Linked DNA regions of Homo sapiens: regions 1 and 3 are each linked to region 2. The links come from fine-mapping of genetic effects on gene expression. A gene starts in region 2. Each other region holds a variant in brackets. All regions are shown on one strand. Distances are between the middles of the regions. Region 1 overlaps CAMKMT (calmodulin-lysine N-methyltransferase). Region 2 holds the start of CAMKMT (calmodulin-lysine N-methyltransferase). Region 3 overlaps CAMKMT (calmodulin-lysine N-methyltransferase).

The links.
Region 1: its variant is fine-mapped to the expression of CAMKMT in whole blood (TOPMed, PIP above 0.99).
Region 3: its variant is fine-mapped to the expression of CAMKMT in thyroid (GTEx, PIP 0.97).

What each region holds. Positions count from the first base shown.
Region 1 is chr2:44,543,973-44,555,516 of GRCh38, forward strand. The region is part of intron 3 of CAMKMT (calmodulin-lysine N-methyltransferase); the gene reads left to right. Among named protein-coding and RNA genes, the nearest start is that of CAMKMT, 190 kb to the left of the region's middle. RefSeq lists an enhancer at 84-862 and a silencer at 9,518-9,812. The variant C/T (reference allele first, on the strand shown) is at 5,640.
Region 2 is chr2:44,357,407-44,366,935 of GRCh38, forward strand. It overlaps CAMKMT (calmodulin-lysine N-methyltransferase), which reads left to right and starts at 4,541. Exons shown (of 11, transcript NM_024766.5): 1 at 4,541-4,739. The coding sequence starts at 4,602. It overlaps PREPL (prolyl endopeptidase like), which reads right to left and starts at 4,088. Exons shown (of 14, transcript NM_001171613.2): 1 at 3,974-4,088. RefSeq lists enhancers at 3,460-4,354, 3,731-4,930, 4,167-4,636, 4,355-5,248.
Region 3 is chr2:44,582,722-44,594,265 of GRCh38, forward strand. The region is part of intron 3 of CAMKMT (calmodulin-lysine N-methyltransferase); the gene reads left to right. Among named protein-coding and RNA genes, the nearest start is that of CAMKMT, 230 kb to the left of the region's middle. RefSeq lists an enhancer at 6,501-7,200. The variant A/G (reference allele first, on the strand shown) is at 5,063.

The DNA.
Region 1 (11,544 bases), 190 kb after region 2:
CTCAGGGGCTAAGATAGGTCAAATGAAGTTTATGAGATTCCATACACTTTCTGGACAAAAATCTACTATACTACTCTTGGAAAAATAATTTGAAAAAGACGTTTTTGAGTAGGCTTAATGTTCTTAATTTAGTGCTCCCCAAAAGAGGAGTATGAGAAAAACATTTAAATTTTGGTATTATGTTAAATACATCCCATGTTTATACCTAAAATAGTCAATGAAATTCTTTTCCTGTGTCAATGATTATTTCAGTGATTACCTGGACATTTGGGAAAGTTAGCAATTAATGCCAAGGGTTATTTATTTTGTCACTGGTTCAGAAATGCCTGTTTATACAAATCAAGACTTCCAGCAGCTTGAGCCTTCTTTTTCTTTTTGAGCTGGTAGAGTCAATGGTTAAAGGACAAAAATTCTACAATTGATTGAGTTACAAATGAATACAGTGTTAATTAAGCCAGGCCATTGTCTTTAAAGTGGAGTCAGTACATTGGAAGTCAGATTTCTCTTGCTGTTTAGTCAAACTGCCTAAGGCTGCAACTGCTTCCTTATTAGGTTACTAGCTTTGGGGAGATGTCATTGTTTGCTGCTGTAGCTAGGCTTTCTGTTAAAAATCACAGCATGAGGCTTAAACTGCTGCAACCATTATCCAGTGCTAACATGTCACTAAAGGTCTGCTAATAGAACAAGAGGAAAAATATCAATCTTTAATTTTAGATCAGCCAAGTAATCTGTAGCACCTGTTCATTTTCTCTCATCAACCCATTTAAAACAAGACTAGAGTGATTCTTTGATGGGCAGGCTATAAGATTCTAATATTTTTTGCCTTTTCTTATCAGAGGAAAATTTAGACTTTAAGACTAAAGAATAGAAAAAATAAACTGTAAGTACATTTCCTTTAAAAATTTTATTTAAGAGGTAGAATTATCTGATGTAATCCAATGATGACTAGGTTATTATAAATAATTTTTTAAAGAATAATTTTGTTTAATTTTCTGAAATTTACTTTTTAGATAAAAGCTAATCAATGAGGACATAATACACTGGTCCAAACAGCAAATTTTCCATAGAGAGCAGAAACTCTTTCAAGCTTTAGATGACAACCAACTTACATTTACCTATTCAGATATAATAAACAGAATTAGAACTTAGCAGCTGCTAGCTTTCCCTTACATAGACCTCAAGGCTCTGTCACGGTATGGGGCAAAATTAAAGAAAACATTGTGTCCTGCTCTTAGGAGAGGTGAAAGGATTGCTTCTGCAAACCACCATTAGCAATGCGAGTTCCAAAACATTCCCAGTGATGCTAGACCAAGTACTACACTTAGCAAATAAACATATAATAAGAGAAACATAAAACTTAGTAAACCTTTACAGTCCCCAAGTATATCCATCTTTTATTTAAATTAAAAAATCAGTTACTACTCTGAGCCTGTCTCTTTACTAGGCATTGAGAACATCAAAATGAGTCATAATACATGTACCCTGCTCTTCCTCGTGGAACTTATGGTCTATTATTGATCCTCTGTATAAAACCTTTCTCAGAGCTAGTACACATGCAGTTTTTGTTTTGTTTTGTTTTGTTTTTGTTTTTGTTTTTTTTGCTGGTGAGGAAGTTGAGATACAGGGAGGTTGTGACTTGTCTATGGTCACAAGATAAGTGGCAGAGTAAGGATTAGAAGAATCCGGTGTTCTAACTTCTAGACTCGGTCTTTTTTTTTTTTTTTTTAACTATATCAAGATGAAGATACCGGAGGGGAGAAGGGGATTATGAAGGCACAGTTTTAATGGACACCTTGTAGAATAATACAAGAGTGGAGTGACAGTATGGGAGCCTTTGATTAAAAAATTAATTCTAATGATGAAAATCTAGAAGCCAGATATAATTTAAGTATCTTCAAAAGGAGGGATCATCAACTCATTTAAAACAAGTCTACAGTGATCCTTTGATGAACAAGCTATAAGATTCTAATATTTTTTGCCTTCTCTTATCAGAGGAAAATTTAGACTTTAAGTAAGACTAAAGAATAGAAAAAATAAACTGTAAGTAAATTTCTCTTAAAAATTTTATGTAAGAGGTAAGATTAGCAAATTGCATCTTTTATATAGAGAGTTATCTTTTGTCTATAACATTCATCAGTATCTGATCATATTCTTTTGGATCTGGCTATCTTAGACTGCTAGGACACACACACACACACACACACACACACACACACACACACACACACACATACATGCACATACCCCTATACCTATGACCAATTTCACATCTAAGTTCTGACATTTAGCCCTAAAATCTCCTTCTTAGCCCAAAGCCGCTGTTGGCCTTGTCCTGGAAATTCCAACTTTTAGCATTTTCTTCAGTGGTCACTTGTGTGATGCATCTCTCCTGAGGTCTACATCAGAGCAGGCTCAGCCTCATTCTGCCACGACCATTTCCATCATCACAAGTACTTGATCTGTTTCACGTTTTATGGAATCGATAAATCTCATCCCTAAAGAGTCCAGCAGGCCTTTGATTCCTGACCTGACATTTGCTAATGCTATTCCTGATGACCTGCCACTACGGATCTGCAGCACTGCACTCTTGTGTTTGACAACACTCATAATATGAATCAATATTCAGCATTCAGTAAGTGAGCTGGGGAGTCATTTCACTGCTGCAAAAGGCTGCGTTGCCCCTGGGCAGCTGTCAGAAATGGGTAGTTATTAATAGCCCTCTCTTTTCACTTAGCATAGTCAGTAGGGGTCAGGCATGAAATGATTTAATCAGTTTATGATATCTGTGACAGAGAGCACTTAAAATGTAATCACAAAATTTAGGTAGAAGTGTCCCTGGGCTGTTGTAATGTTTTTCTCACTTAATTTTCCCTAATGCTGATACAGTGTAGTGCACACTGAGAGACTGACCATACAACAAAATGACATATGAGTTGGTGTTGGTTTCATTTCTCTCTCAGTAAAGTTGCCTTTTTAGTGGGGGTTTTTACTTCACAACATAGACCACAAATCCTAAGGGTAAGTGAGTATAAATCCCTTGGGTTGGCTTGCTTGGCTCTGCAAAATGTGTCCAAAATGTGTTGAGGGGTCCTGAGGGTGGGGAAGAACTTGATTGAGCAGAAAAATATCAAGCTTAGGTTTTTTGTTATTGTTATTTTCTGTATCCTCAAAGAAAATGTTAATGTGCTAGGATTCAGAGGACATTTTCCAGGTACACAAACCTAGTTGAACAATATCAGTAGTCTTATTGGGTCCTCTAGCAGTCACTTGGAAATAAGCTCAGCAGAAGTAAAAGTAAAAACTGTTCTATGCTGATAGTTGGAAAGACAGTACCTCAGCAGGGATTGGTCAAGCTGGGAATTCAGGGTTCAAGTAAGAAGAGTGGCTCTAAAAAATGTTAGATGATGCTGACGTGGTGGTGCATGCCTGTGGGGCTACTCCGAAGGCCGAGGCAGGAGGATCACCTGAGACCGGGAACTTGAGGCTGTAGTGCACCATGATCATGTCTGTGAATAGTCACTGCACTCCAGCCTGGGCAACATAGTAAGACCTCATCTCTAAAAAACAAGAAAGATATGATAGGTGAAAGATGACCCTAAACTTAAAAGGCAGTGAAAAAAATCATCACAGGTGTAAAAGTTAGCAATGCATGGAACAAGATTAGTACAATGTTTAGGTCTTGGGGTCTGGAATACCCAGGTTCAAATGCCATCTCTGTACTATCATTTCCTCATTTGAAATAATACCCATTTCATAGGGTTACTATGAGAATTAAATACGAGCTTATGTAATATATCTGACACATAGGAGAAGTTCAAATAACATTACTTCTCTCTTTCCTTATCTCTAACGGCCTAAATTTGGTTAATTATAATGCAAAAGGGAGGGCAAGTTTTGAGCTGAAGCTGCAGTGGAAAGGGATCATCAAGACAGCTGTCCTTGAGTGTCCCTCCTGCAGTACTGTCTCTCATTGGCTGCTTGCCCATCAGAGGCACACTGATCACTCTAAATATCCTGGTAGAGAGTGGGGAAAAACTTGGCCCTGGACATCTTCCTGCAGATTTAGGGAGACAGAAGAAAGAAAAAAGCACAGAATATGCTGAGTTCAGATTTGTGATTCTAATGTTAATTAATGCTTGCCTTCAAATGGGCTTAGTTCTTTTATTCAACAAGTATTTACTTAGCATCCTACTATGTGCTTTCTATGTGCTGGCAAAATTTATGGGAACAACCAGCTCGAAGTCCCCTCCTGCCTCATTCCTGACTCTGTTGGGTATCATAGGATGAACATTAGACAAAGACATACGCCTTCTGTGTTTCTCTGTGAATCCAGAGCCTTAAAAGCTCTGGCATTGTCTAAGACCCACTTATCTCTAAGTGCTTTGGTTTGTACTGGTTCTTTATCTTTCTAAGCTAGAAAGCCATGGTCTCACATGAAACCACAAGCCCTGATAACAGGTGTCTCCTGTGGTAGGCAGAATTCTAAAATGGCCCCCAAGATTCCCGGCCCTGCTGTACACACACCCTCTCCCAGGTATTTAGCCATACGTTATCTAGATACTGCTGTGGAAGGATTTTGCAGATGTAGTTAAGGTCCCAAATCAGTTGACCATAAAGCAGTGACATTATCTGAGTGGATCTGACCTAATGACATAACCCCTTTAAATCTGGGTCTAGAGGTCAGAGACGGGAAGTCAGAGACGAAGCAGGAGAAGGATTTGCTGGCTTGAAGATGGAGGCAGCTACGTAGCAAGGAATTTTTTTAGCTGAGAGTGGCCCTTGTTTGCCAGCCAGAGAGGAAATGGGGACCTCAATTCTACAGCTACAAGGAGCTGAATTTTGCCAGGAAGAATGAGGTTGGAAGCAGAACTTTTTTAGAGCCTCCAGATGAGAACTCAATCTGGTTGCCACTGTTATTTCAGCCTTGTGATTCCCTGAGCAGAAAACTCAACCATGCCATACCAGACTTCTGACCTAAAGAGTTGTGAACTGATAAATGAGTGATGGTTTAAGCTGCTAAATTTCTGGTGATTTGTTATGCACCGATAAAAAACTAATACATCTTGTTTACATCTTGCCTGTTCCACATTTGTTTCCTCCGAGATCAGATGGAAACATGATCCCCTTTTTCTGTTTTCAAATCTTATGTCTCTTTCTGGTACATCGGCTAAGCTCTTCTTTCTGTTGGAGAAAAATGTTCTATATTCATTTGCCAAAAGAGATGATTGCAATCTTCTGAATCTGGTGAATGCCTGAGGCTCTCTCACCAGTTTACCAGCTCTGTCCACTTCTTTGGGCTCTCTTTGGTGACTAATCACTCAAGCATCCTCCTTCCCAACCCCTATGGGAATTCTCTGCCAGATTACTATGATTATAGTTTTATAATCCTAAAAAAAAAGACCTGAAAATGTACAGAGTGACAAACATAATTCACCCCAAGGGAAGAGAAGAACCTCTCTCACACAGCAGGAAGACTCAGTTTTTCCTGTCCAGTCACTTGCCACAATGTCTTGAACTGAAAACCACAATTACTTTTGCACCAACCTAAAATGTATATATAATTTTTTTTCTTTTTTTCTTAGACACAGGGTCTCACTCTGTTGCCCAGGCTGGAGTGCAGTGGTGATCATAACTCAGTG[C/T]AGCCTCAAACTCCTGAACTGCTCATATATTTAAGAAACACTTCGTGGCAGAAGATTATGATACTCTTGCTTATTTATTGGCTTAAGGATTAAGGATCCCCAAAGTCTCAGACTTCAGTAAGTAAGCCTATGTCCTACATGATGTCTGTAAACTCCACTCCCTCTTAGACTTACATCCTAGAACAAAGACATAGGGGGCTTCTTCAACTGTGGCCATACATTTTTGTCCCAGACCCAGCTTCATTGTGTTAAAAGTCTTGGTGTTATGTGAAGAGTGTCTTTATCCATCCTTCCGTCATTCAGTGTAGAGTTCTAGGATTTTTGAAATAGGATAGATTCATTCTGACCTGCCTGAATTGAAAGTCATATTAAAATGTGGGCAGGGAATCGGGAAGGGAAATGTGGAGAAAAGGAATGTGTGTGTAGTCATATTCACAAAAATACCTTGATAAAGAGCCAATACCAGCACAAAGAACATCAGCATATATGTTTTTAAGACTGACAGCCACTGGGCGTGGTGATTCACATTTATAATCCCATCACTCTGGGAGGCTGAGGTGGGTGGATTGCTTGAGCCCAGGAGTTTGAGACCAACCAGGGCAACATAGGGAGACCCCGTTTCTACAAATCATTAAAAAAATTAGGCAGGTCTGGTGACACATGACTGTAGTCCCAGCTACTCTAGAGGCTGAGGCTTAAGCCTGAGAGGTTGAGGATTCAGTGACCTATGGTAGTGCCACTGCACTCCAGCCTGGGTGACAGAGTGAGACTCTGTCTCAAAAAAAGAAAAAAAAAAAGAAAGAAAAAAGACTGACAGTCATGTAAGATCACATTTACATATAAAATGCATATATGTAACATTTCTTATATGAAGATGAATAGTAAAGGAATTAAATCAATTTAATTTCTACTAGTATAGAATTAAATGTCTACTATAAAGTTATCACTAAGCTGAGCTCTTAGGGAGACACTGAACCCAAGGAATTTATAGGCTCCGTCTATCTTTTTTCTATTCCATGTGGTGTGAGAGAAGTCAGTTACCAAGATCTATTGACCATCTATCCACTCTTTTCTGAACCAAAGGCATACTCTAAAAGCTTGCAGTGACTGGATGAGTCAAATTCTGTCACTTCCTCTTTACAAGTTGTTTTGTAATGATTAAACCAGTGATACATTGTATCATACATTGATTGAGGAGGCATTTAATACTTAAAGTGAGAACTGTTGCAAGTTATCAAAGGAACTGTGGGTGTTCTGTATATTCTCTGTATATCTTCATAGAGACTGCCGAGAATGGGGCTTGAGACTAAAGTTTTAAACAACTCATTCATGAATGTCCATCTACCTAAACTTCTGTACACAATATATGACAACTTGCAAGACCTGGAAACCAGATGTTTTTAAAATTGTTTTCTTCAGTGTTTTATTGTAAAAAGTCTCATCTATTCTACCTAGCCACATAATTCCAGGTGGTGTTCTAGGGTTCAGGGTAGAGTACGTGGCAGTAATGTAGTCACAAGATTATGTAGTCCTGTTTAATGGGGCAGAAACCCACATCTGCAAGATCTTTATTCTCTCAGATTGCTGAGACAAAGAACTGGATACGGGGCTTTACACAGTGTCATGCAGTGCGTGGGCATGCCTTCTATGTCACATTAATTGTATTTATAAATTTACTCCAGAAACCTGAGCATGAAGACTCTAAATTCTCACTGTTCAGGTGACTCTAAGCAGATGGCTTATGCATAAGATTGGAAGGATTGGAAGTTCTAAAGGGAATTGTGCGTGTTGCCCTTTGTGTTCCATAGGCCATTACCACTGGGCCTTGAAACTCCCTGGAGTTTTATGCATAAGAAAGAAAGATGTCAAATTTGCCTTCTTGAGTAGTTTTATCAAGGTCACCTATGATCTGTATTTAACATTTGGTTGCAAGGGAGAGTTCCCAACAAAAAGATGCTGGAACACAGCCAGTCCATTAGCATTGAGGCCATGCTTTCTTCAAAACATCCTGGGCTCTATACCAAAGTATGCTTTTTAAATGGCAGCAGTGGAAAAGATTTGTCGAAAACTCATGTCACTGTAGATGAATTTGCTCTGAAGAATAGAGATCATTATCAGCCCAGTAAATTTTGAGACATCAGAGTGAAGCACTGTACTAAGTGCTTTTGTACATGTCACTTCACTTCATCTTCATAATAGTCCTGAGAATCACATAATTATTATTCTCATTTTACAGAAGAGAAAACTGAGTCCTATATATGACATACCTTGTATACCTATGGAGAGCTTTCCTTTGTTGGCAATATTATACCAGAAACAGTTTAGCTTACTCAGGGCGAAGTGTAATATGGGTTTCTAACATATAGATTTTTTTTTAGTTTTCATTTTTTAATAGATTTAGAGGGGGACAAGTGCAGTTTTGTTACATGGACATATTGTGTAGTAGTGAAATCTGGGCGTTGAATGTAAGCATCACTTGAATAGTGTACATTGTTTTACCCATTAGGTGATTTCTCATCTCTCATCCTCCCCTCCGAGTCTCCAGTGTCTATTATTCCACTCTATGCCCATAGGTATGCATTATTTAGCTCCCGTTTGTGAGTGAGAACACTAACCTACAGTTTGAATGTATGTTCACAGTGATACACAATGATATTTCGATTGTACTCATTATTACTTTTGAGTCTTTTAAATAAAATTCAGAAGAGAATTTTATTTAAAAGACTGTGGCTTTCTCATTAACAAGACAGGCAAACTGAACCAATTCATTTACCTATCTAGTGCTTGACATGGAGGATTTAAGAAATCCTAGAAAAGATTTCTAAAATGGAAGATTTTACTTGGTGATCTTTACAGTCAATAACAACTCCAAAATCCTGGAATCTTATGCAGATAGAGTCCTTTCATACAAAATACTGTGGCAGTGCTCAGAATCTGGTGTGAGGTCTGAGGCAACCACTCACCTCCATATTTTCCATTTATTGAGCACTTACGTTTCAGGAACCATGCTAAGCGATTTACATACATCATCTCATTTAATTCTTACAACTGTTCTGCTAATATTATTTCCATTTTACATATGAGGAAACTGAGATACAGAGAGGCTTAAGTAATTTGTCCAAAGTCATATGGTATGTGATGGTAGAGCTGAGATGTGAAAACCAGCCTGTTTGACCATCAAGCTAGCCTCTTACCATTGGGCTATTTACTTTATTTATTTATTCAGCCTTAGGGACAGGATAAGTTTATGTCATTTAGTCAGGACCCTTTCCCCTGATAATCTTTGGACAAATCAGCAATAATTTTAAAAGAAAGAGACAAATATTTTAGAGGAAGGGAATAGGATAATTGGAAAGAAACTAAGAGGGTGCTGTGAAAGTATACATAAGGCGAAAGGAGGCTTAGCCAAAGAGTTCAAAGTCAGAATGCTCCCTTGTCACAGAAATTAAGTACTAGATGTGTGCTATGATTTAAATTTTCATGGCACATTAAAGTCTTTTGTTGAAAAACCTGTAACATCTTCAGCAAGTAGTAGACACTATTTAAGTACCTGTAATTGACCAATACGATACTATACTACTGGTGTTCTGTTCACTGTTGACCCAGAAGGCCACATGTGTAGATAGCATATGAACCGTCTTCATTTTATACTCTGTTCTCTCATACAAGTGCTCTAAAGTGACTTTTAATCTCTGTTATATATAGTTTTATCCATTAAGAGGATATGACATCTTTTCATTCAGAGTGAGACACTTTTTTTTTTTTTTTTGGGACAGTCTCGCTCTGTCACCCAGGCTGGAGTGCAGTAGCGCAATCTTGGCTTACTGTAACCTCCACCTCCTGGGTTCAGGTGATTCTTGTGTCTAAGACTCCTGAGTAGCTGCGACTATAGGCATGGGCCACCACACCCCACTAATTTTTGTGCTTTTAATAGAGATGGGGTTTTGCCATATTGGCCAGGCTGATCTCGAATTCCTGGCCTCAAGCCATCTACCCAACTCAGCTTCCCAAAGTGCTAGAATTACAGTTGTGAGACACCGTACTTGGCCACGTTTTTGTTGTTGTTGTTAGAAATGTGCTCTGAGACTGGCATTTCCTCTCTGTGACTAATCAGCATTAGATGGGAAGATAGTCAACTGTTGCATTCTTTTTCTATTCTAATTATTGTCATGGCTCTGGTAGTATTTCTAACTATAATTTTACACTAAAATAAAAAGAATAATTTATCAAATGAAGCTATTTTAGTGAATTTAAAATGTATGACATCCCTCTCATAAGGTAGCTTTGCTTGGTTACTTTTATTGTTTTGTTGAGTATTCTGATTCTATAAAACATAACATTTAAAAAAGAGGTTGTAGGCATTAATATAATATTAAGTGACTTGCAAATAAAGAAGTATGGAGACTCTTAGGAGGTGGGTGCCTATTTATCTCTTTAAAGAACACAGTTTTAGAAATGTTTGCTTTATCCATTATGACCTTTTGCTAACTCATTCATTCATTCAGTAGACATTTAGTGTCTGTATGTTCAGTCGGAGTTCCTGGGGTAAGAATTAGACATTCAAAGACAACTAAGATAGAGTTTATACCTTTGAGAAGCTGACTGTTTTGTGAGGGAGATAGACAAGGGAGGAGGAAAATCCAGTAGTTAGTTAAACATTATGATAGAGGTATGCACTGGATGGTGTGTGAGCACAGAAATCTTCCTAGTAACCCAGATTGCCTAGGTTCAAATCCTGGCTTTGCCACTTGTTGACTATGGGTCTTGGACAAGTTACTTGACCTTTCTGTGCCTCATTTTTCATACAGCCCTTAGAACAGTACTTGATACACAATAAATATTCGCCGGGCACAGTGGCTCATGCCTGTAATCCTGACAGTTCAGGAGGCCAAGACAGAAGGATTGTGTGAAACCTGGAGTTCAAGACCAGCCTGGGCAGCATAGTGAGACCCTGTTCCTACAAAAATTTAAAAAATTACTTGAGCATAGTAGTACATGCCTATAGTCCCAGTTACTTGGGAGTCTGAGGTGGGAGGATCACTTGAGCCCAGGAAGTCAAGATCAGCCTTGGCAACATAGTTAGACCTTGTCTCTATAAAATAAAAAATAAAAAAATTACCCAGGTGTGGTGGCATATGTCTGTAGGCCCAGCTATTTGGGAGGCTGAGGTGGGAGAATCGCTTGAGCCCAGGAGGTCAAGGCTGCAGTGAACCATGATCATACCCTGCACTCCGGCCCGAGTGACAGAGTGAGACTGTCCTCAAAATAAAATGAAATGAAAACACAATAAATACTGCATTAGGATCTGTTAAATAAGATATTTAAAGCAGAATGGATGAATAGGAATTAACCAGATGAAGGGCGTTCTGGTTGGGGTGGGAGTAGGGAAGATAGGATGGTTTTGAGGAAACTGCATATATGGAAGGCCTTGGCAAGAGGGATCTCGGAACTGTTGAAAAGGGTGGAAAGGGGGCAGCAGCAAAAGAATAAACTGGAGAAGTAAGCAGAAACCATATTACACAGTCGTGTCTGAAAACATGGCAATAATTTACATTATTCATTCAGGTTCATATTTTTACCATATTTTCATGGAGGATGGATTGGAGTAGGGAAACCAGTCAGAGGCTGTTGACATGGTTCAGATAAAAACTGATTGAGACCTTAAACTAGGGGTATTGGTGGTAGGGATAGAGAAGAAGTGAATTGATTAGAAAGCTGTTGAAAGTGTGGGATAAGGGACAAGGGACAGGTGGGAGTCAGACACATCTGACGGTTTCTGGCTTGTTTGACATATTGCTGAAGCAGGGACTACAGGAAGAACAGATTAGGGTGAGGATGGGGAGGGAGGATGGGTTCCATTTTAGATATTTTTGAGTGAGTGGAGCCTGTGGGACAGTTAGAAGAG
Region 2 (9,529 bases):
TCTTTATAAAGCTTCCCCAGGTCTCAGTGATAAAGACCATGGCTTTTACATTACATCATTTCTCATAGAGGGAATGGTTGATACATGACATGTGACAGCAGGATTACTTTATCAGGTAAAGGAATTACTAAATGAACTATTAATACTTGGAGTTATTGAGTCAGGTTAAAGTTTCCAGGTAGTGGGAATCTATAAAAGAGAACGGAAAAGTTGCTTCAGGAACAAATGGAGGGAAGAAATAGTCAACCTTCTGTTTAGAATGTGAGCTAATATCACAGCTGTTACTCTGATGGTAATTCCTGTCTACTATTTATAAACTAAGTGTTAAGACAAAGTACGACATGACAAAATGTTCTAAACACAATGCAAAATAAAATAACCTAAAGGTCCAAAATTTAGTTCAATAGGTGAAATTAAAAATTTTATCTTTCTGAAGTAGGAAAGATGTACAAAAAACACAAAAATGAAATAAAAAGAAGTTATAAAGAATTTCTAAATGAGTAAAGAAAGTACTAAACTAAGGCAAGACACTACAAAAAGGAAAAGAATTTCAAAGACTAAAACATAAACAGTAAAAGTCTAGGAAGACTAGGGGGCTAACATATAAAATGTTAAAAGCAAAAGAGACACACACAACACCTAAATAGGTATCAGCTAAGATAGCGGCAAAAATTGAACAAAAACTAGAAAAACTGAGAAAAATTAGATTGAAAAGATAGTTTCTAAAATGAGAAGAATCTGCCCAAGTGTCCATCAATTACAGGAATGGATAAACAAAATGTGGTTTATACATACAAAGGAATATTATTCAACTATAAAAAGAAATGAAGTTATGATACATGCATACAACACAGATGAACTTTGAAAGCCACTGAATTGCATACTTTAAAATGGATCAAGTGGAAAACTTTGTTATACATATATTTTACCCGAAGAAAGGAGGAAGCCAAAACAGACTAAAAGAAAAATCAGTATGCGACAAAACCAGAAATTAAAATAAAAAAAATATTAAAATCATAAATTTGTGAAACTATTGCAAGAATACCACCCCCAAATATCATTAAGGAACCTAAGGAACATAAGAAGTAAAAGGTAGGAGAGGGATGTCAAAGCAGCAGCAGCACAAATAGATCATTTAATCCTACTTACTGTAGGATGACCATATAATTTACCATTCTAACCAGGACACTTTTGAGAGGAAAGGGGACACTATTAATAATTACACAGGGACAACAGGTGTAGGCTGGAGCTGTGCCAGGCAAAAGTGGTTATGTGGTTACTCTCTATATAAGGGCAATCAGGTCCTTAAGGTTGAGTTCACGCCCACAGCTTGGGGTCTGGCAGAAGTACAATACTCTGACAGTGTCTTCCTGAATGACTCAAGTGGTCAAAAACGCAAGATTATTTTTCATTTTTTTACAGAGAAATAAAATACAATTCATGGCCTTTACTGAAGTTTACTGATTTGTGATTCATAAAACAATTAGCGTATCATTAGATTTTATTAAGAGCTATAATTTAGTGTTCTAGGAAATTTAGAAGGCCGAATTATACTTTGAAATGCACTGGCAGGCATACTAAGGAAGTCCTGAGGTGAATCATTTTTTATAAACCTACATTTTTATATATTACATTAGAGCCCTATAAATATATGTATACACTTTTTTTTTTTTTTTTTTTTTCAGACAGAGTCTCCCTGTCACCCAGGCTGGAGTGCTGTGGTGCGATCTCAGCTCACCGCAACCTCTGCCTCCTGGGTTCAAGAGATTCTCTGCCTCAGCCTCCCAAGTAGCTGGGATTACAGGTGGGTGCCATGACGCCTAGCTAACTTTTGTATTTTTAGTAGAGACAGGGTTTTACCATGTTGGCCAGGCTGGTCTCGAACTCCTGACCTCAGGTGATCTGCCTGCCTCGATGTATATACTCTTTTATACTTACTTTTGACTAGAGACAATTGAGACTTGAAAATTAGAAAAATCAAGTTAGAATTACTGAGAAAATTAGTAGCTCTGATATTCTACCCATTCTTTATTTTTAAATTAAAATTAATCTTAATGACCTACAAATAGGTTAACTTAAACAGTCCATACCTTACATGAGAAGCTCCGACTTGGGATGTTTCTTGCTAACTCTGATATCTTGGGTTTATTCTGAAGACACTTGGTTAGGTGATATTTTTTCAATTTTATTCTATTGTAACAATGATCAGCGAAGTTATAGTGATTCAAATGCTGTTTCTGCATGCATTTTCCAAGGTGAGGAATACTATACTTCAAAGCTTGGAGAAATAATTTGGTCTTCTGCTGCATGATATCAAAGTCCCTGGTTTATGCTCCTTTTGGGGCTGCCAGCACACGAATGATTTTATAGGTATGATTACAGAGTAGTGGGTTCTCAGAGTAACTAAGATCAGCAGTTCTCATCCCTCCTTTTCAGGGCCATGCCCCACTTAGGTTATGAATAACTTCAGACAGCTGATAACTTAGGCTAACTAAATCTAAAAACCTGTGTAAGTTAAAGTTTCATTCAAATCATAATTCTTGGCAGATGTGACTTAAATGTCTCATTTGTAAAGTTAATCCTATCAGGCTCAAACTATGCAGCACTGACTCTGGCACACATAGGGGTTAAACTAAAACAAAAAACAAAACAAGAAACAAAATATAAATTTGCAAATAAGTACACAGACTTAATGGGGTATCTCAGGAACTCAGGGCTGTAAAAGGTAAAAAGCCCTTTGGTCTTACATAATTATGAACGTATCTTTGGTATATATGTGGAAGATAAACTGGAAAAGCCTAATTATTTAATAAAGGTGGGGGAGGGAAGATTAATTATTGTTGAGTGTTAACTAACTGCCAGGTGCTTTTATCTTGTTTGTCTAATTTAAATTTTATATGGACTTAATAAAGTAGATATTACCATGCACATTTTACAGGTTGCCAAACTGTGGCTGTGGGAGGTTCTAAGCAACTGTTCCAGGTCACTTGTACAGTAAGCTGTATAGCAAAAAATCCAATTTGGTTCGGTTCCAAATACTGGACATACTCAACTTCGGATTTTTAATGTTAAAAAGGTATTTAGCGCTTTAATTAAAAACAACAAAAAACCCCTGCAAGATGCACAAATAAAATGTAAGGCCATCTCTGGTTTGTCAGGAGGTAGCTTTTATTAACCTTGATTGCTAATAAGTAGTTAAGAGTCAGAGAGACCTGGGTTGAGGTCTTAGCTCCTACACTTAACTGTGTCTCCGGGCCTCAGTTTCTTCATCTGCAAAAATGAAATGACACCATTTACCTTCTAGGGTTGTTGTTGTAAAGACAAAATGAGACAGCTTAACATTAAGACCATACAGTGCCTGGCACATAGTGACCACTCAATAAATGGCAGTTGCTATTATTTACGACAGGAATAATCTAGGTATGTTGCACACCGCTGAATGTCATTATGGAAGTCTTCCACAAAATGCCCCCTGGTATCAAAGGTAGAATGCTGCGTCAAATTTACCATAGATCAGATGCGCTACGACGCCCCCGCCCCCCTTAATCCCTTTCCATGTCGCAGCAAAATAATGGGCGATTGGGGGTAGGGGAGCAACACTAGTTTACTAGCCGACACTAGTAAAAAAAGGGGAAAAAAGACCCGAATAACAAGGACCTGCAAAGGTCCTACATCACCACGTTCCCACAGCCTTTATCCATCCATCTTTCATCCCCAAGAAGACAGTATGCAAGGCTAGGATGGGGGTGGGGTAGATAAATGGGTGTTCTCAGGAGAACCTATTCGTTTACCCCGTGCAACTCTCCACCCCAGGGATGAGGCGATCTGAATGCAACAGGGAGAGGGACCAGGTGACACGCACGCAGTGCCGGGACATTAGTCAAAAAGCGAGGACCTGGGGACTGAGGGGTGGGTGGCTGGGCGGGGGGAGAAAGGGGAGAAGGAAAGAGACCAGCACACCCCCCATACATACGCAAATTGAGAGAATCAGTCCGGCTCTGGACACAAACCAGTGAAGGCAGGCCGGAGAACCTGAAGCTCTCAGAGGGGAGCAGGTGTCACCGCAGGCAAGTCCAGCCGAAGTCTGCGTTCCGCAGCCCACAGAACGACAACTTACCCAGAGCCGCCTAGAGCTGGTTTGCAGCACGCCAATCTACGTAACCTCAATCTAGCACGAGCAACAGGCAGATTTCGCCATCTTTGTTGTGGTCAAGGAGTCTTCTTGGGTTCCTGGGTTCTTTAGTCTCGAAATATATAAGACTTTTCGTTCTTCGCTAGTCTTCTGAGCTCGAGATGAAGCACAGAAGGCTAAAACAATGAGGGACAGCGTTCCAGTAGCCCTGCCACAGCTCTCTCATCCTCTGGTCCGCCCTCACTCAAGATGGCTACCAGCAAGAATGGTGCAATGGCGTGACAGCTCGGCCCTGGTTGCCAAGGAGATGCGAGTACCGGAAATGCGGAATTCGGGGAGAGCGCGCATGCCTGGTCCGGTGGAGGGAGGGTGCCGGGCGTCACAGGTCCTGACAGGGAAGAAGTTGGCAGGTCCTGGCAGGGGACGAGCTGCGGCGGTGGCACCTCCGGGTGTGGAAGGCTCCAGTGAGATGGAGTCGCGAGTCGCGGACGCTGGGACCGGCGAGACCGCGCGAGCAGCGGGCGGGAGTCCGGCAGTTGGCTGCACCACTCGGGGGCCCGTAGTCTCGGCGCCCCTGGGAGCCGCCCGGTGGAAGCTCCTGCGGCAGGTAAGGGAGAACCTGCTCGCCTCACCTTTGCCTCTGGTCACTCCTCTCTCACGTACCGGGGGAGCGACTGTTCGCAGTTCTTTCCTCTTGGCAGCTCTGGGAGACCCTTCTCAGTTTGCCGGGAGCCACCTGCGAAGCTCCCCCTCGCTTCACCTAAGCGTCCCATCCAAGAGGAGGAATCATGTGGGGTTGGGTGGGGAGCGGGACAGCCAAGGCTGAGCTCCTGGGAAACTCAGATCGAAGTAGAAGAACCCCTTCTAGACATTTTTGTGCGTCTGGGGGACTTTTCCCCTTCTCGCCAGTCTCTGGTGCGCCCGCCGCTCCCCACTGCTCTTTTCCTGCTTCTGTTTTGCCTCCTTCCCCAGTTTCTTCTAGCTTAACTCCCAGCCTGGTTCGAGTTACCGATATTCGTCTGCACCCTCTGGCCCCGTCTTTTGCCCAGCGTGGTTGACTATGCCGGGACTGAGACACGGCATGCGTTCCCTCGGCATCTTCCGTACAGCGGAGCGTGCAAGGAGTAGGAAAAGCTGATACCCTCTCTCACTGAGGTCTCAAAGTTAAATGATTATCTTGTAGTTTGTAGTGATCAGCGAGATTCTCCGTGTCCAAGGTGGGCTAGTCAAAGTGTGTTCGTTTTTGAATGATGGTATCTTCTGGTACTTCAAAGTTTCTGCTGTTACTTACAACTCCACTCGTGCAAGCTTGACGGAAGTTCTGATTTATGATCACTCACATTCTTCGCTCACTTCTTGAAGTGAAGTCTGGTTATTGTTTTTGCATAGCAGTGTTATGCCTCTGCCTGAAGTTTTCTGCCGAAAACTTTACTCAGGAGGACATTTTTCCATTTCTGACAGTTGTGTTTGGAAAAGAGTTTCCCAGCTATTGCCACTTTACTTGAGATTGTGCTTTTAGTATTTTGGGGATCACTTTGTTTGCAGTTGCCTTGAGTCACCTTTTCATACAGTGGTCTTTTAGTGCTTTTAGAGTTATGAGTTAAGTAGATCATCAGAGTTAATTAAGATTTATTTGCTGATACATTGACAGTCTTTCCAGACCAGTAATGATCTGGTTTTGCTATTGTTACAAATGGTATTACAGGATAAGAAAATGCATGTCCTCACAGATCATCATAGGAAGTATCTATAATAAAGTAAATATCTAATTTTTTTTAATAGTGACCACTGAAATGAGATCTGGCGTGAGCTGGGGAGAGTGGACTCAACCCCCCTTCCCCCCTCCTTTTTTTTTGAAATGGAGTTTCCCTCTTGTTGCCCAGGCTGGACTGCAATGGCTGCCATCTCCGCTCACCACAACCTCCGCCTCTAGGGTTCAAATGATTCTCCTTCCTCAGTCTCCCCAGTAGCTGGGATTACAGGCATGCACCACCACGCCTGGCTAATTTTTTTTTTTTTTAAGTAGAGACGGGGTTTCTCCATGTTTGTCAAGCTGGTCTCGAACTCCCCACCTCAGGTGATCCACCCACCTCGGCTTCCCAAAGTACTGGGATTACAGGCATGAGCCACCGTGCCCGGCAACCCCCTTCTTTTTTTTTTTTTTTTTTCGATACAGAGCCTTACTGTGTTGCCCAGACGTGAGTGCAATGGCGCAATCTCGGCTCACTGCAGCCTCCGCCTCCCTGGTTCAAGCAATTCTCCCGTACTCAGCCTTCCGAATAGCTGGGATTACAGGTGCTCGCCATTACGCCCAGCTAATTTTTGTGTTTTTAGTAGAGACGGAGTTTCGCCATGTTGGCCAGGCTGGTCTCAAACTCCTGACCTCAGGTGATTCACTTGCCTCGCCTCCCGAAGTGCTGGGATTACAGGTATCAGCCACCATGCCTGCCACGCCCACCGCCCCCACCCTTCCTTTTTTTTTTTTTTTTTTTTTTAAATAAGATAGAGTCTTGCTTGTTGCCCAGGCAGGTAACTCCTGGGCTCAAGCAATCCTCCCACCTCAGCCTCCTGAGTAGTTGGAATTACAGGGGTATGCCATGATACCTGGCTTTCAGTGATTCTCAGTATAGTAAAAACTACAGCACTTATGTTCATTCTAAATTGCGGTCTAAATGAAAACAGTGACAAGTTTCAGCTGTGGCTGTTACATGAAGTCCCCACACGTTCTGACATCGAAACTTTTGGTATATATCTGCCTGCTTATAGTCTTTTTATCTTCTCTACTTGGTGAATGATTGTTCATTCTTCACACTTCCATTTCAAACTACTCTTCTGTGAAGCCACCCCTAATGCCTCTGGGCTAAGTTAGACCCTCAGCCAACTCTACCAATGAGCCCTTTATATTATTTTATGATCATGTGATCAGGGTCTCTTTTTCTTACTAGAATGGGCATTCACCCTGGGAAAAGGTGATGTTTTATTAATTTACATCCTCTGCACCTAGCACAGGGCCTGGTTAATTGATTTTTAGTAGATGTTGTTCAGTGTCTGTGGAAAGCCTGAGAGTAAGGACAGTCTTTAAGTGGCGCATAGCACCTAGTCCTTAGTGTATTTTATCAGTAAGCTATTGCTAAGTAAGAACCGCAACATCACAGTGGCATACAACAGTTAGTATTTATTTTGTTGGTGCATCTGGGGGCCACCTGGGAGCTGACCGACATAGGCTGTAGTCATCTGGGTATCTCTATGATGCACATGTGGTCCATATGTCTCTAATCTTTGGACTAGTGGGCTGAAGTCCTCATGGTGATAGCAGAGGTATAAGAGCAAGCCCAACCACAGAGACACATTTTAAACCCCTGCTCACATCATGTGTTTATTTCCTATTGGCCAAAGTAAGATATTTGGCAAAGGCCAAATTCAAGGGGCAGGGAAATACAACTCCTTCCTTGGAGGTGACAAAGAGGAAGTGAATATTTTTCTATTACAATTTAATCGATCACATATATTAAACATTTACAAGCTCTTAGTAAATGTATTTCAAATGAATGAACCATTCCTATCCTATATGCATCTAGTACTGGAAAACTATAAGGAATCTAAGCAGTGCTAGAGATATGTGACTCCTTTTCTCGCTCGTGGGACATCTGAAGAACATCTGCTCTGTCTACTTGTTTTTTCCTTTAAAATTCTGTCTTTCCATTACCCTATAGAGCTCCAAGGCTGTCTCATGGCCTTTTACTTTATGTTAACTATTCAGTATTTTCTGTGTTTTGTAATTAACAAAACATAGGTTTTGAGAGAAAACCTGGTTGACCTAGTGCATCATTTGGTTCCAGGTTACATGGTAAGTTGCCAAGATTTGAGTCAAGCGAGTACTTAAATTAGATGAGGTCTGGAAGATGATGAATCAATATCAGTAGAGGTTATGGATGTTGTTCTGTTTTCCTCTTTGTTGAGTCTCATTACATGTTGACGAAGATGGCCACTGGCAACTCCGGGCTTTCATATCCATCCAGCTAGTAATCCAGAAGAAATAACTCTTTTCCCCAACATCCAAATCATTTCCTCCAAAGGACTCTGATAGGCCAAGGTTAGACCAATTGCTGTGTCCAGAATGGGGCACTTTGGCTAACCTGGGTTATCAGCCTACCCTGTGGCAGGTAAGGTAACAACCTCACTAGAATTACATAGAGTGAGAGAGGGGCAGTTCCTAAAAGGAGGCAATGTAGGGCAGATGAAAAAGTAGCAATGACTGTTACACACGTATTTACAAACCACCTACCGAATGAAAAATGTTGCCTAGAGGTATGAATACTTGGCTGAAGAATCTGATTATGGAATATTTCACAGTTCAGTTTATATCAAAGCAGGATGCTTTTTCCTGGATTGGCTAATTGAAAAAGTTGGTTAAGAGGTGAATTGTAATAACGATACATATTCCAAGTGAAGTTATTTTCTGAGTGTCAAATCTTTCTAGGTATTTGTAATTCTTCAAATGTTTATAGTTGGCTTCCAACACCTAAACTGATAGTAAACTTTTAAGCAACTTACCTTTATCTTTCTCAAACATTCAACTTGGCTTTTAGGGTAACGTTAACTCCCTTTCAGCTCTATGTTATTAGTTTTGTAATATTTAATTAATGACAAGTTAAATATTTAATTGATGACAAATTTAATTTGTTATTTTGAAGAATAAGTAGAATAAAAAGGTTTGTGAAGAAGCACAGTTAACTTGGCAAGCATACAACTTGACACTGGCGTCAGATGCATCTAAGTCTTGATCCAGTCCTAGGTCTACTACCACGTACTGGATGCTCTTCACTGATCTATATCAAGTATTTAGATTGTTTTGGAATGTATTTTTGTTTCACCTTTATTCTTGACTTTGTTTTATATGCTTACTTTTGCTTTCTCTTTTTCTTCATAAATGTTATCTTGTTGTATTGTTCATCTTTTTAAGCCATCTTGAATCCTTTTGGTAATAGTTGTCATATAAGTCTTCCATAAGTTGTTGGAATTTGGACAACTTTTTACTTTCTAACCTCAGTTTTCTCTTCACTTAATGGGAGTGATAACACATACTTTGGAAGGTTGTTTTGAGTATTTGAGATAATATTTGTAAAATGTTTAGCTTGGAATCTGCCACATCATAGACTCAAAATAAATAGCAGCTATTGTTATTATTATTATTATTATTTGAGACAAAGTCTCACTCCATCATCCAGGCTGAAGTGCAGCAGTGTGATCTCGGCTCACTGCAACCTCCATGTCCTGGGTTCAAACGATTCTTGTGCCTTAGTCTTCTGAGTAGCTGGGACTACAGGTGCACACCACCACGCCTGGCTAATTTTTGTATTTTTTTTGGCAGGGATGGGGTTTTGCCATGTTGCCCAG
Region 3 (11,544 bases), 230 kb after region 2:
GTGGAGTACATGAAAGTTACATGCAGAGGTGGCTTAGAGTTGAGATATTTAGTAGTTTCCCTCTCTGTGAATACCAGAAAACACAGCTGTTTGAGTACTCCCTTAACATTGCTTACCTAAGCAGGGGAAATAACTAAGAAAGTGACTCCCAGTTTCTAGCATTGTAAGCTTTTCGAGAGAAGCCTAAATTTGTGTGTATATTCCTTTCCTTTATCTTTTGGCTGCTGAAATACATACTATCAGCATAGTATTTCAACAAAAATGATGATCTTTTTTGGAAATTCGAATTGTTCTGATACTCCCCACAAAAAACCCTTAAAATACATATAATACATAATAGTCATTATTTGGGTATTGATCCTATTATACTGTTAGCTCTTCACATCTGACCTATTTTAGTATTTCCTGCATTGCTCACTACTATGCTTTGTGTATAGAAGGAGCTTTATTGATTAAAATGGACTGGATATTCATTCAACAAGTATCTATTGGATGCCTACTAGCTATGAGGCATGGTGGGAGCCATCAGATACAGTAATCAATGAGCAAGACACACACACAGTCCCTGCTCTCAAAGAGCTCATGATGAGAAAGATGTAAGACAGGCATTAAGTGACCAGTTACATAATTTTTAATGCAAGTTTTACCTTAATATTATATGCTTAAATAAAATTCAGGATGTTAGAGGATTCTTCAATAAGAAATCAGATCAAGTTTATGCTTCTCCAGGACAGGGACCTTTAAAAATCAACACTTAAAACTCAATTTTTTGCACTTAAAAATAAAATGAGGCTGAGGACCATGGCTCACCCTATAATCCCAGCACTTTGGGAGGCTGAGACAAGAAGGTTTCTTAAGACCAGGAGTTTGAGACCAGCTTAGGCTGGTCTCATAGGGAGATTCTGTCTCTACAAAAAATAAAAAAATAGCTGGGCATGGTGGCACACGCCTGTAGTCCTAGCTACTTGGGAGGGTGAGGGGGAAGGATGGCTTGAGCCCAGAAGTTCAAGGCTGCAGTGAGCTATGTTTGAGCCACAGCACCGCATCCTGGGCAACAGATCAAGACCCTGTCTCTGAAAAGAAGAAAGAAAGAAAAAAGAAGGAAGGAAGGAGACAAAAAATAAAATGCACACATTGCAAGTGTACATTTCAATGAATTTAGACAAGTGTATACAAATATCCATATGTGAGTGAATAGGTAGAGATGAGTATATATGTATGTATAAGCATATACATATATAACTGTATACATACCCACACATCCCCTCATTCAACATACAGGATATTTACATGACCCAGAAAGCTTCCTTTGTGCTCTTTCCTTGAGTACAACTCATCATTTTCCCCAGGCTCCTGGATTGTTTTTCGAGTTTCAGATAAATGAAATCACATAGTATGTACTCTGTGTCTGACTTCTTTTGCTCAGCCTGATGTTTCTGAGATCCATCCATGTTCTTATGTGTATCACTGGTGTTTTCCTTATTATTACTGATTAGCATTTTATTTTATAGATACACCACAATTTATTTATTCATTTATCCACTGACTGACAAAAATAAACCTTAATTTATTGCTCATAAGGTAAGATGAAAGAAGTGGTACATTTTTATTTATGAGCTGTGAAAATGTACTAGAGGACCTGGGATATTACCTTATATTCACCACATATGAATAGTGTTGGCCCACACTGAAGTAATTTTTATCCCCAAATGAGCTATAAAGACATGTCCCACCTGAAAAAACAGTTTCATTGATAATTTATGGATAATATAAAATGCTTCCTAAGTTGTTGAGTAGAATGCTGAACTAACAGGTAAAACACTAAAATTAATCTGATTCTGTGTATTGTGGGCTACTTACAGAATGCAACAATTATTTTTGGAATTCAAATTCAAGTCAAAAAATATTTATGAATGTCTGCTATACATAAAGCATGGTATTCAGTTCTATAAGGCAATAGAAGATAAGCAAGATGGAGTTCCTTCCTTGGAGGTCTAGTGGCCTAAAGTGGGAAATTGGGTGTCTGCATGAAATAATTAAAAAAAATAGTAGGCCGGGTGCGGTGGCTCACACCTGTAATCCCAGCACTTTGGGAGGCTGAAGCGGGTGGATCACGAGGTCAGGAGATCAAGACTATCCTGGCTAACGTGGTGAAACCCTGTCTCTACTAAAAATACAAAAAAATTATCCGGGCGTGGTGGTGGGCGCCTGTAGTCCCAGCTACTTGGGAGGCTGAGGCAGGAGAATGACATGAACCCACGAGGCGGAGGTTGCAGTGAGCCGAGATCGCACCACTGCACTCCAGCCTGGGTGACAGAGCGAGACTCCGTCTGAAAAAAAAAAAAATGTAAAAAGGCTTGTTGATTAAACCAAAGTAGTTTTAGTGCCCAGCTTTTTAAAAGGGGAGTAAATTATACCTCCTATAAGCCAGTCAAGTTAATTTTGATACCTTTAAAGATTCTGCACTAGATGAAATCATTGAACAATCAATTAGTCACCACATAGGAGAGCATGAAGCACTGGGTAGTCACTGTCTTGGCTTTGCAAAGAGCAAATTGTACCAGATCGATTTAATTTCCTTCATGAAGAGATTGACAGTTTATACATACATTTAGGAAGCAATTCAGCTGAACTTCAGAAAGGATTTTGATTCAGCCACACATGACATTTTAGCACTAACTCAAAGGATGTGGTGTAGGCCAGACCATATTCCTGTAGGAAGTGGCCTGCTTCTCTGGGGGGTTATATTTGAAAAGTGTTATGAAGGGCTTAGTGTCAACCATGAATCTTGTTTTATAAATACATATCCAAATGCTGGAGTTATTCTGAATTTCTGTGTCATGCATAAATAATTGAAAATAAACTCATATGTTGGCAAAGGAAAACCTTGATATGAGTACTCTGGAAGATTGTTATAGATTAAATGAAATGATCTTAAACCATAAAAGTGACAATTGTGTACTTTATGAAGGGCTGTAAGATCAAGTTCAAGTAACATGCTATGGTGATCCTACGCTTTACCAAAGATAGATGGAAGATGGGAACAGCTAGGCCATAAATAAGACAAGAGACTTAGGAGTCATAGTGGAATTCAATCCATATATTGCTGATCAATTCTGTGTTATTATTTATAAACAATGCATAATTTTAGAGTGTGTAAAGGGGAATATGATTTGCAAGCATATGGAGCCCAAAGGTCGTTACTCTGCAATAGTCAATTTTAATCACAACTCTCAGACTGTTCTAATTTTACACTACAGGGAAGCTAGAGGGTCCAGAGAAAAACATTCTAAATATACAAGAAGATAAATAAATGTTTCTTTAAAGTTCAGACTAGAGAAGAGAGACCACTCTTCAAATCGTACAGAGGTATGTACAGAGGTACGATTTGCCTATTCTGTTTGGAAACAGAATAGGCAGCCTTCTGCCCAAGGTGGCATAGGTGTTAAAGGCTTGGTTTAGTTTAAGGGTTCCAAAATCTGATAGGGTTTCAGGATCACTTGGATAGAATTTTTTGAAACACAGCTTTATTGAAGTATAATTGATTTGCTATACATTGCACGTATCTCAAGTGTACAATTTGATAAGTTTTAACATATGTATATATATATATATGTTAAAAGGATTCCCTATTTAATGAAACTATTACCACAATCAAAATAATGAACATATTTATCACCCCCAAAAGTTTTCCCCTGCTCTTTTGTAGTCCTTCCTACCCTTCCCTAGGCAAATATTATCTGCTTTCTCTCACTATAGATTCATTTTCATTTTCTAGCATTTATGTAAATAGAAGCAAACAAATTGTATTCTTTTTCATCAGGCTTCTTTCACTCAGCATAACTATTTTGAGCATGCTTTCACTCAGCATAATTATTTATATTTAATTCTTGCATATTGTAGTGTGTTTGAGTCTTCCATTCCTTTTTTATTGCTGAGTAGTATTCTGTTGTGTGCAGTTATATGCAGTATATTTATCCATTTATCCATTGATGGACATTTGGGTTGTTTCCAGCTTTGGGTTATTATATATAAAGCTGTTGTGACATTTATGTAGAATCTTTTATTTAGACATATGCTCTTATTTTTCTAGAGTAAATACATAGGAGTAGAAATGCTTAGATCATGTGGTAGGTATATGTTTAACTTTTAAAGAAACTGCCAAACTGTTTTCCAGAGGGGTGGTTCTATTTTACATTGCCAGCAGCAGCATGGGAAAGGTCTGTCAACACTTGGTTGGTGAGTCCTTTCCATTTTAGTCATTCTAGTAGATGTATTAGAATCTCATTGTGGTTTTAATTTAAACTTCTCAAATGATCATCTTTTCATTGCTTATTTGTCATCTATGTATCTTCTTTGGTTGAGTGTGTATTCAGGATTTTTTTTGCCCACTGTTAAATTTGATAATTTGTTTTCTTGTTATTGAATTTTGAGAATTCTTTATTCTGAATACAAGTCCTTTAGCAGATTCTGATGAGAACTGCATTGAATCAATAGCTTAATTTGGGAAGAAGTGACTTCTTAACAATACTGAGTCTTCTAATCAATGGACATGGCAGATTTTGCTGTTATTTTAAATTTTAAACTTCTTTCAGCAATATTTTGCAATTTTCAAAGTACAGGTTTTACATATCTTTTGTCAGATTTACCCCTAAGAATTGTATATTTTTTAATGCTATTGTAAATTTTATTTAAAAAATTTTTAGCTCTCCCTCTCCCTCCCCCTCCCCCTCCCCCTGTCCCTCTCCCTCTCCGTCTCCCTCTCTCTCCACGGTCTCCTTCCACGGTCTCCCTCTGATGCCGAGCCAAAGCTGGACGGTACTGCTGCCATCTCGGCTCACTGCAACCTCCCTGCCTGATTCTCCTGCCTCAGCCTGCCGAGTGCCTGCGATTGCAGGCGCGCGCCGCCACGCCTGACTGGTTTTCCTTTTTTTTTTTTGGTGGAGACGGGGTTTTGCTGTGTTGGCCGGGCTGGTCTCAGCTCCTGACCGCGAGTGATCCGCCAGCCTCGGCCTCCCGAGGTGCTGGGATTGCAGACGGAGTCTCGTTCACTCAGTGCTCA[A/G]TGGTGCCCAGGCTGGAGTGCAGTGGCGTGATCTCGGCTCGCTACAACCTCCACCTCCCAGCCGCCTGCCTTGGCCCCCCAAAGTGCCGAGATTGCAGCCTCTGCCCGGCCGCCACCCCGTCTGGGAAGTGAGGAGCGTCTCTGCCTGGTCCCCCATCGTCTGGGATATGAGGAGCCTCTCTGCCTGGCTGCCCAGTCTGGAAAGTGAGGAGCGTCTCTGCCCGGCCGCCATCCCATCTAGGAAGCGAGGAGCGCCTCTTCCCCGCCGCCCATCGTCTGAGATGTGGGGAGCGCCTCTGCCCCGCCGCCCTGTCTGGGATGTGAGGAGCACCTCTGCTGGGCCGCAACCCTGTCTGGGATGTGAGGAGCGCCTCTGCCCGGCCGCCCCGTCTGAGAAGTGAGGAAACCCTCTGCCTGGCAACCGCCCCGTCTGAGAAGTGAGGAGCCCCTCCGTCCGGCAGCCACCCCGTCTGGGAAGTGAGGAGCGTCTCCGCCCGGCAGCCACCCCGTCCGGGAGGGAGGGGGGGGGTCAGCCCCCCGCCCGGCCAGCCGCCCCGTCCGGGAGGGGAGGGGCTCCTCTGCCCGGCCGCGCCTACTGGGAAGTGAGGAGCCCCTCTGCCCGGCCAGCCGCCCCGTCCGGGAGGGGGGGGTCAGGCCCCTGCCCGGCCAGCCGCCCCGTCCGGAGGGAGGTGGGGGGGTCAGACTCCCTCCCGGCCGGCCGCCCCGTCCGGGAGGTGAGGGGCGCCTCTGCCCGGCCGCCCCTACCGGGAAGTGAGGACCCCTCTGCCCGGCCAGCCGCCCCGTCCAGGAGGGAGGTGGGGGGTCAGCCCCCCGCCCGGCCAGCCGCCCAGTCCGGGAGGGAGGTGGGGGGTCAGCCCCCCGCCCGGCCAGCCGCCCAGTCCGGGAGGGAGGTGGGGGGATCAGCCCCCCGCCTGGCCAGCCGCCCCGTCCGGGAGGTGAGGGGCGCCTCTGCCCGGCTGCCCCTACTGGGAAGTGAGGACCCCACTGCCCGGCCAGCCGCCCCGTCCGGGAGGGAGGTGGGGGGGGTCAGCCCCCCGCCCGGCCAGCCGCCCAGTCCGGGAGGGAGGTGGGGGGTCAGCCCCCGACCCGGCCATCCGCCCCGTCCGGGAGGGAGGTGGGGGGATCAGCCCCCCGCCTGGCCAGCCGCCCCGTCCGGGAGGTGAGGGGCGCCTCTGCCCGGCTGCCCATTCTGGGAGGGAGGTGGGGGGGTCAGCCCCCCGCCCGGCCGGCCGCCCCATCCGGGAGGTGAGGGGCGCCTCTGCCCGGCCGCCCCTACTGGGAAGTGAGGAGCCCCTCTGCCTGGCGAGCCGCCCCGTCTGGGAGGGTGGTGGGGGGGTCAGCCCCCCGCCTGGCCAGCCGCCCTATCCAGGAGGTGAGGGGCGCCTCTGCCCGGCCGCCCCTACTGGGAAGTGAGGAGCCCCTCTGCCTGGCCAGCCGCCCCGTCCGGGAGGGTGGTGGGGGGGTCAGCCCCCCGCCTGGCCAGCCGCCCCATCCGGGAGGTGAGGGGCGCTTCTGCCCGGCCGCCCCTACTGGGAAGTGAGGAGCCCCTCTGCCCGGCCACGACCCCGTCTGGGAGGTGTGCCCAGCGGCTCATTGGGGATGGGCCATGATGACAATGGCGGTTTTGTGGAATAGAAAGGCGGGAAGGGTGGGGAAAAAATTGAGAAATCGGATGGTTGCCGGGTCTGTGTGGATAGAAGTAGACATGGGAGACTTTTCATTTTGTTCTGTACTAAGAAAAATTCTTCTGCCTTGGGATCCTGTTGATCTGTGACCTTATCCCCAACCCTGTGCTCTCTGAAACATGTGCTGTGTCCACTCAGGGTTACATGGATTAAAGGCGGTGCAAGATGTGCTTTGTTAAACAGATGCTTGAAGTCAGCATGCTCGTTAAGAGTCGTGTCACCACTCCCTAATCTCAAGTACCCAGGGACACAAACACTGCGGAAGGCCGCAGGGTCCTCTGCCTAGGAAAACCAGAGACCTTTGTTCACTTGTTTATCTGCTGACCTTCCCTCCACTATTGTCCTATGACCCTGCCAAATCCCCCTCTGCGAGAAACACCCAAGAATGATCAATAAAAAAAAAAAAGAAAAAAAAAAAAGAACGAAAAAAAAAAAATTTTAATTTCCAATAGTTTGTTGCTGGTATATAGAAATACAACTGTTATTTGTGTATTGACCTTGTGTCCTGCAACCTCACTCAACATACTTGTTAGTTCTAGTCAGTTTTCTGTACATTCCATCAAATTTTCCACATGGACGGTCATGTTGTCTGCTAATATTGACATTCCTTTCCCATCTAGATGCCTTTTATTTCTTTTCTTCCCATACTGCATTGGCTAGAACCTCTAGTATAGTGTTTAATAGAAGCAGCAACAGAGAATATCTATGTCTATGGGGGATATTGGTCTGTAGTCTTCTCTTTGTCTTTGTCTGGTTTTTGTATTGGAGTAATGCTTTCTTCATTAAGTAAGTCAGAAAATATTCTTCCTTTTCAGTTTTCTCAAAGAGTTTGAGAAAGAATTGGTGTTATTTCTCCTTCAATATTTGGTAGAATTCACCAGTAAGCCAGCTAGGCCTAGAATTTTCTTTGTGGGAAAGTTTTTAAACTACAAATTTCTGACTTTTTAATGATTGCCATTCTATCTGGCGTGAGATGGTATCTCATTGTGGTTTTGATTTGCATTTCTCTGATGGCCAGTGATGGTGAGCATTTTTTCATGTGTTTTTTGGCTGCATAAATGTCTTCCTTTGAGAAGTGTCTGTTCATGTCCTTCACCCACTTTTTGATGGGGTTGTTTGTTTTTTTCTTGCAAATTTGAGTTCATTGTATATTCTGGATATTAGCCCTTTGTCAGATGAGTAGGTTGTGAAAATTTTCTCCCATTTTATGGGTTGCCTGTTCACTCTGATGGTAGTTTCTTTTGCTGTGCAGAAGCTCTTTAGTTTAATGAGATCCCATTTGTCAATTTTGGCTTTTGTTGCCATTGCTTTTGGTGTTTTAGACATGAAGTCCTTGCCCATGCCTATGTCCTGAATGGTAATGCCTAGGTTTTCTTCTAGGGTTTTTATGGTTTTAGGTCTAACGTTTAAGTCTTTAATCCATCTTGAATTAATTTTTGTATAAGGTGTAAGGAAGGGATCCAGTTTCAGCTTTCTACATATGGCTAGCCAGTTTTCCCAGCACCATTTATTAAATAGGGAGTCCTTTCCCCATTGCTTATTTTTCTCAGGTTTGTCAAAGATCAGATAGTTGTAGATATGTGGCGTTATTTCTGAGGGCTGTGTCCTGTTCCATTGATCTATATCTCTGTTTTGGTACCAGTACCGTGCTGTTTTGGTTACTGTAGCCTTGTAGTATAGTTTGAAGTCAGGTAGTGTGATGCCTCCAGCTTTGTTCTTTTGGCTTAGGATTGACTTGGCAATGTGGGCTCTTTTTTGGTTCCATATGAACTTTAAAGTAGTTTTTTCCAATTCTGTGAAGAAAGTCATTGGTAGCTTGATGGGGTTGGCATTGAATCTATAAATTACCTTGGGCAGTATGACCATTTTCACGATATTGATTCTTCCTACCCATGAGCATGGAATGTTCTTCCATTTGTTTGTATCCTCTTTTATTTCATTGAGCAGTGGTTTGTAGTTCTCCTTGAAGAGGTCCTTCACGTCCCTTGTAAGTTGGATTCCTAGGTATTTTATTCTCTTTGAAGCAATTGTGAATGGGAGTTCACTCATGATTTGGCTCTCTGTTTGTCTGTTATTGGTGCTGGAGAGGATGTGGAGAAATAGGAACACTTTTACACTGTTGGTGGGACTGTAAACTAGTTCAACCATTGTGGAAGTCAGTGTGGCGATTCCTCAGGGATCTAGAACTAGAAATACCATTTGACCCAGCCATCCCATTACTGGGTATATACCCAAAGGACTATAAATCATGCTGCTATAAAGACACATGCACACGTATGTTTATTGCGGCACTATTCACAATAGTAAAGACTTGGAACCAACCCAAATGTCCAACAGTGATAGACTGGATTAAGAAAATGTGGCACATATACACCATGGAATACTATGCAGCCATAAAAAATGATGAGTTCATGTCCTTTGTAGGAACATGGATGAAATTGGAAATCATCATTCTCAGTAAAGTATCACAAGAACAAAAAACCAAACACCGCATATTCTCACTCATAGGTGGGAATTGAGCAATGAGAACACATGGACACAGGAAGGGGAACATCACACTCTGGGGACTGTTGTGGGGTGGGGGGAAGGGGGAGGGATAGCATTAGGAGATACACCTAATGCTAAATGACGAGTTAATGGGTGCAGCACACCAGCATGGCACATGTATACATATGTAACTAACCTGAATATTGTGCACATGTACCCTAAAACTTAAAGTATAATAATAATAATAAATAAATAAATAAACTACGAATTCATTTTTTTTATGGGTACTGCAATATTCAGGTTATTTCTTCTTGAATAATCTTTGATAGTTGGTGTCTTTCAAAGAACTTGTGCCTTCCATTTCATCTAAGTTGTCAAACTTACTGGCATAATGTTATTTATAATTTTCCTTTATTATCTTTTTACCATCTATAGAATCTATAGTGATGCCATCTTTCTTATTTCTTACATTGGTCATTTTTGTCTTTTCTATAGCTGTCTTGGTTATCAGATTAATGGTCCTCAGTGCTTGGGTTCAAGTAACCCTTATTTTACTTAATAATGGCCCCAAAGTGCAAGACCAACGATGCTGGCATATTGTTATAATTGTTCTGTTTTATTATGTTATTATTGTTAATCTCTTATACTATGCCTAATTTTTAAAGTAAACTTTATCATAGGTATGTAAGTATAGGAAAAAACATAGTATATACAGGGTTCAGTCCTATCTGCGATTTCAGGCATCCACTAGGACCTTGGCTTGTATCCCCCAAGGATAAGGGAGGACTACTGTACTTTGTGATCAGAGAACATATTTTGCATGGCTTAAATCTTTTTAAGTGTATTGTTTTGTGGCCTAGAATATGGTCTAGCTTGGTAAAGCTTCAACTGGCATTTCAGAATACTGTATTCAGCTCTATTGGGTGGTGTGTTCTATAAATGTCAATTAAGTTGGTTGGTAATGTTATTCAAGCCTTCTATGTCCTTACTGGTTTCTGTATACTTGTTATATCAATTATAACATGTTAAAATCTCTGACTATAATGATAAGTATTTATAATAAATATTCTTGAGTTTTGTTTTGTGAAGCAGATGTGTTACTGGGAAACAGCTTGATCCTTTCAGATCTTGCTTTTAAGATTTGTTAGGTGGGACCAGCAATATTTATGTAGGGCAAATTTTTCCACACCACTGAGGCAAAACTCTTTTGTGTACTCAACTCAATGTTCAATGCATTAAGAAGTTTTTCTTGTCAGACTGGCAGAAACATGCACAATTTCCAGTTCTTTGTGAACACTGGATACTATTTCCTTTAATCCTTTCTGATAGGTCTTTCCCTGGCCTCCTGTAGTTTTCTCAGATACATGTGCTTATCAATACTCTGATGAATACTCAAAGGGAGGCATTTTTCAGATATGCTGGGTTCTAACTCTTTGCAGCTCTGTACTCTCTGATACTCTGTCCTTTGAACTCTAGCCACATTGTTTTTTCCAGACTTTCAACTCTGGTACTCTGCAGGGCTCCATTTGGGTTCCCTGTCCCAATGCCACAGCCCGGAATCTCTCTTAAACTTGAGATAATTGTTGGACTCACTCACCTCATTTGTATTCTGTCTCCCAGGGATAACTGTCCTTCCTGCCTCCTGCCCACTGTCTTGAATACCATAGTTTCATTTATTATATTTGATTTGTAGTTGTTTTAGGTGAGGGAGTAAATCTAGTCACTGTTGCTCCAACTTGAATAAAAGCAGAAGTCTCCCTGGGGAATTTTTGAAAAAGACAACTTCCTTTTTTTTTTTTTTTTTGAGGCGGAATTTTGATCTTTTTGCCCAGGCTGGAGTGCAATGGCGTGATCTCAGCTCACCACAACCTCTGCCTCCCGGGTTCAAGCGATTCTCCTGCCTCAGCCTCCCAAGTAGCTGGGACTACAGGCATGTACCACCACGCCTGGCTAATTTGGTATTTTTAGTAGGGATGGGGTTTCTCTGTGTTGGTCAGGCTGGTCTCGAACTCCCCACCTCAGGTGATCTGCCCACCTCAGCCTCCAAAAGTGCTGGGATTACAGGCGTGAGCCACCATGCCTGGCAATTGCTACAAAGAGAATAAAATACCTAGGAATACAACTTACAAGGGTTGTGAAGGACCTCTGCAAGGAGAACTACAAATCACTGCTCAAGGAAATGAGAGGACACAAACAAATGGAAAAACATTCCATGCTCATGGATAGGAAGAGTCAATATTGTGAAAATGGCCATACTGCCCGAAGTAATTTATAAATTCAATGCTATCC